Homo sapiens: one gene and its partner. The protein of the gene in region 1 interacts with the protein of each later gene in a pairwise test. Each region holds a gene or a part of one and is shown in the gene's direction. Other genes may lie near its edges. The genes, in order: MAIP1 and H4C7.

What was found.
Region 2: the proteins of MAIP1 (region 1) and H4C7 interact in binary tests that used the Homo sapiens proteins (3 or more experiments, as listed by UniProt).

Annotation. Positions count from the first base shown.
Region 1 is NC_000002.12:199,961,355-199,964,707, forward strand, and holds the end of MAIP1 (m-AAA protease-interacting protein 1, mitochondrial isoform 1 precursor), read left to right. Parts: intron 1-426; coding exon 427-574; intron 575-611; exon of another isoform or gene 612-753; intron 754-2,378; coding exon 2,379-2,457; 3' UTR 2,458-2,763; downstream 2,764-3,353. UniProt on the Homo sapiens protein: Promotes sorting of SMDT1/EMRE in mitochondria by ensuring its maturation.
Region 2 is NC_000006.12:26,246,066-26,248,516, reverse strand, and holds H4C7 (histone H4-like protein type G), read left to right. Parts: upstream 1-1,520; 5' UTR 1,521-1,539; coding exon 1,540-1,836; 3' UTR 1,837-1,906; downstream 1,907-2,451. UniProt on the Homo sapiens protein: Core component of nucleosome. Nucleosomes wrap and compact DNA into chromatin, limiting DNA accessibility to the cellular machineries which require DNA as a template.

The DNA of each region.
Region 1 (3,353 bases):
TTAGGAGGCTGAGGTGGGAGGATCGCTTGAGCCTGGGAGGCGGAAGTTGCAGTGAGCCGATACTGCGCCACTGCACCCCAGCCCGGGTGACAGAGTGAGACTCTGTGTCAAAAAAAGAGAAAGAAAAAGAAAATGCCACTAATTGAAAATAATCCATGTAGTATACTTAGTAAAGTACGTGCTCAGTTAAGTAGTAGTTTTATTACTGAGATACAGAGAAGAGGGCAAGTATGCCATAAACCCTAAGACAATTTTCTAAAAATAAAATAGTATCAATACAAGTATTTTAAGTCACATCAGAATAAGCACAAAATTTGACCTGTAACAACTGTATAACTGCTGCCAATTTCTGATTTCATTTTGTTTATATGGATGATAGATTATTTTGATTTGTATTCGTATGTGTGTATATGTTTTTTCTCTAAGGAAGGAAGTTTGTTAACATCCTGATGTGCTTTTGGTATCTAACCAGTGCCAACATCCCCAGTGAAACTTTAAGAGGAGCCAGTGTATTCCAGGTTAAGTTGGGGAATCAGAATGTGGAAACTAAACAACTTCTTAGTGCAAGCTATGAGTAAGTTTAATCAGATTTCATTGTTTCCTTTCTTCAGAAAATGGAAGGTAGTGTGAAGGTATGAAAACTAAGAGATCTTTAGGAAGAAAAGAATTGAAATTTGACAAGTTATTTATGAAGAGAAAAGGTCAGAAAGACACACTGGATATGAAACAGGAGAGTTAAGAAATTAGAAAGAGGTAAAGTTGCTGAATTTAATTAAATGATGTTTTAGCTGTCTATTGCTGCTTAACAAACTACCCCCAAATTCATTGGCTTCAAACAGCCATTGACTTTGCCTGCTATTTCACTGCTCAGAAATTTTGGATAGGCTCAGTTAGGGGGTTTTCTCTGCTTCACCTGGCATCAACACGAGTGGCAGGAGCTGGAGGATTCATTTCCACAGTGACTTCTTAACTCGCATGGGTGGCACCTTGGTACTCCTTGGCTTCTGCATGACTCTGTATTCTCCAGGGCCACTCTTTGTGGCTTGGACTTGTGGTAGTTTCAGACTAGTCATATCTTTCATATAGTGGTTGAATTCTAGGAGGCAGAAAATGGAAGCTGCTAAACCAGTAAAGGGCTATGCCCAGAATTAGAACATCAGTTCTGCCATAGTCTACTTGTCAAAGCAGTCAAAGGATCTGTATAGTTTAAAGGGTGTAGAAAGACTCCCCCATTTTTTGGGGCAAAAACCAGCAAGGCCACATAGCAGAAGAGCACATGGGAGGGGAGATATGGTTGTGGTCATTTTTGGAAAATAAAATCTGCCATAATTGGTACATGAACAATTTATTCACTAGACATCTGTTGGTCATCTGTGTGCCCACATGCTCTGGTAGAGGTTCAGATACAAAGTTGAAGGGATACTGCCCTTAAGCACATACTGTATAGTAGGAAGTTAGCAAGTTACGTAAAAGAGACATTATATTGTATTTTTATGCGAATAAAATCTAGAACAGTGAACTGCTGGAGCAAGTCAGTGAAGATATAATTTAACATTTATTAAAAAAATATGTTGCCAGAGTTACACAAATCTGCTTCAAAATAACAAACCCCAAAAATGACCTAAGAAATAAAATGTATTCTGTTTTACTAAGGTAAAAGAGAATTATATCCTCATTTTTTTTTTGCTCTTCTTAAAAGAAATGTGTTTTTTTAAATTTTGCTTTATTTGTAATTACCCAAAATATTCTATATATTTAAATACTTAATTTAAATCTACTGAATTGCCTGTTAAGAAATAATTTTTAAAGAGCACTGTCGTCAATACTAAACTTTATCTTTTCTGATGTTTCTTACTAAGACTATGGGTACTTCATAAACATTGTTATTTTCAAGATTGATTTAATGTATGTAAACTAAATTCCACTATTTATTCCTAAATTGGTAACAGTGCTATTTGAAAAATAGCTTTTTGCCTGTATCCTAGGTTATGTATTTAAAGTGCTGTTTGCATCACCAGAGTCCAGTTTATCTGTCCTCATATTAGGCATGTGTTATAGCTAGTATTTAACACATACTAGCTATATGTGTTATTTATATAACACATATATCCAAGTTTCTCTTAGGGGCTGGTAGATGTTGAATATAGATTAGTCCATTAAAAATACTTACATTACTTGAGAATGTACTTCAATTTTGTGGGTATATTTATTGTGATTGAATGGGTAGGTTAAACTTTTTTTTGTTTTGATTTTGATTTAATATTAACCATTATCTTGTTGCCAAAAATTCTTCTAAATATACACTTGCAAATTACATAGTTATCTAACACATACTTGGACTGATGTAAGATTTACATTATTTGCAATGTCTTTCCTAGGTTTCAGAGGGAGTTCACACAAGGAGTAAAGCCTGACTGGACCATTGCACGGATTGAACACTCAAAATTATTAGAATAATTTTCTTGGAAAAATCAGCTTATGGACTTTAGCAGTTGCTGTGAAAAACTAAGGAAGAAAAATTTTGGGGTCATTTGATCTTCACTTAATCTAAGTCTGTGAATTACTTTTATATTATTTTGAAATACTCCTTGCAGTATATTGGCATGATACAGTAAAAGCATTTTCCACAGATTGTTATCACCTTCTTTAAAAGAAGTCAAAATTTAAAAAATACAATAGCACGTTGTTGGTGTCATATTCAATAACATTTCCAATGCTACATATAATTTTATAGACATAATAAAGAAGGTATTGAAAAAACTACTTACAAATTTCTTTATATATTTTTTAAATTGTTTGAGAAACAGGGTCTTGCTCTGTCTCCCTGGATGAAGTCCAGTGGCATGATCATAGTTCACTGTAACGTCGAGCTCCTGGGCTTGAGCGATCCCCCTGCCTCAGCCTTCAGAGTAGCTGGGACTACAGGCATCCACCAGCATGGCTGGCTAATTTTAAAAAATTTTTATAGAGATTTCACTATGTTGCCCAGCTGGTCTTGAACTCCTCAAGTGGTTCTGCCTCGGCCTCCCAAAGAGCTAGGATTATAGGCATGAGCCACTGCACCCAGCCTACTTACACATTTCTAAATTAATAGTTCTTAAATATTTTATTTGTGGCTAATACATTTACACTTTTTTTTTTGACGGAGTCTCCCTCTGTTGCCCAGGCTGGAGTATAGTGGTATGATCTCAGTTCACTGCAACCTCCACCTCCTGGGTTGAAGCAATTCTCCTGCCTCAGCCTCCCTTGTAGCTGGGACTACAGGTGTGCACCACCATGCCCAGCTAATTTTTTTTTGTATTTTTAGTAGAGACAGGGTTTCACCATGTTAGCCAGGCTGGTCTCGAACTCCT
Region 2 (2,451 bases), on another chromosome or scaffold:
TAACTAGCTCAGCAAGTATTTTGTAATGTAAAAATTTAGTGGTGCTTATGTCTTTATTTTGGCTTGTGAGCAAATTCCCCTTTTCTCCTATTAACATTTATGACAGCTTTCCCTGAGTTTCCTGTTGTATCAACCCCAGAAGACAGTCACCCCCTGTACCTTCTGTCCTCCACATGAGAACAGGGCATGGAGCCTCTGGCAATTTACATTATCTTTTTTCTGGGCAATTCTTCATTGCTTAATTGTATAGTGCTTAATATAAGTGAAAGCACACTGAATGTATTGGTGTTGCAAAGGCAATGTTTTAAAATCCTTCGGTGTGCTTTACCTCTGCATTATTATTTTGTCTGTAAAAAAAGGCTGTGGCAATAAGAATTCGTTTACCAACTGGCCGGTGAGGTGGCTCACGCCTGTAATCCCAGCACTTTGGGAGGCCAAGGCGGGCGGATCACCTGAGGGCAGGAGTTGGAGACCAGCCTGGCCAACGTGAAATCTGGTCTCTACTAAAATACAAAAATGAGCCGGGAGTGGTGGCACATACCTGTAATTCCAGCTACTTGGGAGGCCGAGGTAGGAGAATAGCTTGAACCCAGAAGGTGGAGGTTGCAGTGGGCAGAGATTGCGCCATTGCACTCCAGCCTGGGCAACAAGAGCGAAACTCCGTATTTTAAAAAAAAATCATTTACTAACTATATGCCAGTGTTTTGCTTAAAGTAACTCAATTATTAACAAGTATTTACCCTTTTTACAGATAGGGCCATTGAAACTCAGATTAACATGTCTAATATCGGTGAGAGAGCAGTCACTCACAGATTCGAAACCAAAAACCAGGCTACTTCTCTTTAGCTGGGCGGCTTGGCAATATGATTAGGAATTCTTTTATGTCTTGGAATTTGGGCTTGTTTCAACTTCAGCATGGTAAATGCTCTAATATACAGGGAAGGAGTAAATCTTTTTTTTTTCTTTTTTGAGACGGGCTTCGCCCTTGCCCAGGCTAGAGTGCAGTGACGTGATCTCGGCTCACTGCAGGCTCCACCCCACGGGGTTCATGCCATTCTTCTGCCTCAGCCTCCTGCATAGCTGGGACTACAGGCGCCCGCCACCTCGCCCTGCTAATTTTTTGTATTTTTATTAGAGACAGGGTTTCACCGTGTTAGCCAGGATGGTCTCGATCTCCTGAGCTCGTGATCCGCCCGCCTCGGCCTCCAAAAGTGCTGGGATTACAGGCGTGAGCCACCGCGCCCGGCCAGGAGTAAATCTTTAAACACATACAGACATCAAAAATCGAGATACTTTCCTCTAGGTACATGTTTGACACTTTCGTTTAGAGATCCTTATTCTCTAAATGCCAGCAAATCTCCCTACTACAAGAGAATTTCTTATGTCTTGTTATTACTAGAAGTAGATGAGCGGGGACTGAATACGTTTTCCCGCCTTTCCTGGTCTTTCAGTTTTCAAAAAGGTCTACTCTACCGTTATATAAAAGGCTGCGGAAAGCGAGTAATCGTTTTGTTTAGAGATAGTTCTGACTTGTTTATCATGTCTGTTCGGGGCAAGGCCGGAAAAGGCCTTGGGAAAGGCGGTGCCAAGTGCCATCGCAAGGTACTGAGCGATAATATTCAGGGCATTACCAAGTGCACTATCCGGCGCTTGGCCCGGCATGGCGGTGTCAAGCGCATCTTGGGCCTCATTTATGAGGAGACCCGCCGGGTGTTCAAGGTGTTCCTGGAAAATGTGATCTGGTACGCCGTGACCAACACGGAGCACGCCAAGCGCAAGACGGTCACCGCCATGGCCGTGGTCTACGTGCTCAAACGCCAGGGAAGAACCCTGTAAGGCTTTGGCGGTTAAGTGAGGCCAGGCCTTTCCTTGCAATATCGTTAATGGCCCTTTTCAGGGCCGCGTACGTTTTCTTCCGAAGGGCTCACGTTTGACATTGTGGAAACTTAACTAACGCACTCAGCAATATTGTGTGTTTTATTGCTGTAGGTGCCCAAAAGCTGTTAGGTGTATAATGCTGTAAAGTATAAATTTACGCCAAGGCTGACATACAACATGGAATACAGGTGGTAAGTTAATCGTGTGTTCAGAGATTAGAAATCTGGTGGGCTGGCTGAGGACATCAACGGCTACATTGTCACTTAAAAGCTCTCAAAATGTGGTTATGGTAGTGTGTTTTTCTCCTTACTGTTAGGATTACCCTCCGTAATTAAAATTGTAGTTTTAGTGCCAAGATAACCCGACTTTTATATTCTGCTTAATAAGCAATTTCAATAACCAGAGAATACACAATAATTAGCACAAACTTGCCAGGTGCCGTTCTGACAAATGTGTCTGCAGTGGAGGGACTGGCCCCCTTGCTAGTTCAATGATCTAATTTAGCAGCACTAAAAGAAGTTTACCTGTTTCGTGCCTTTGCTTGTGATCCATCGTAAATATAGAAACACCTTG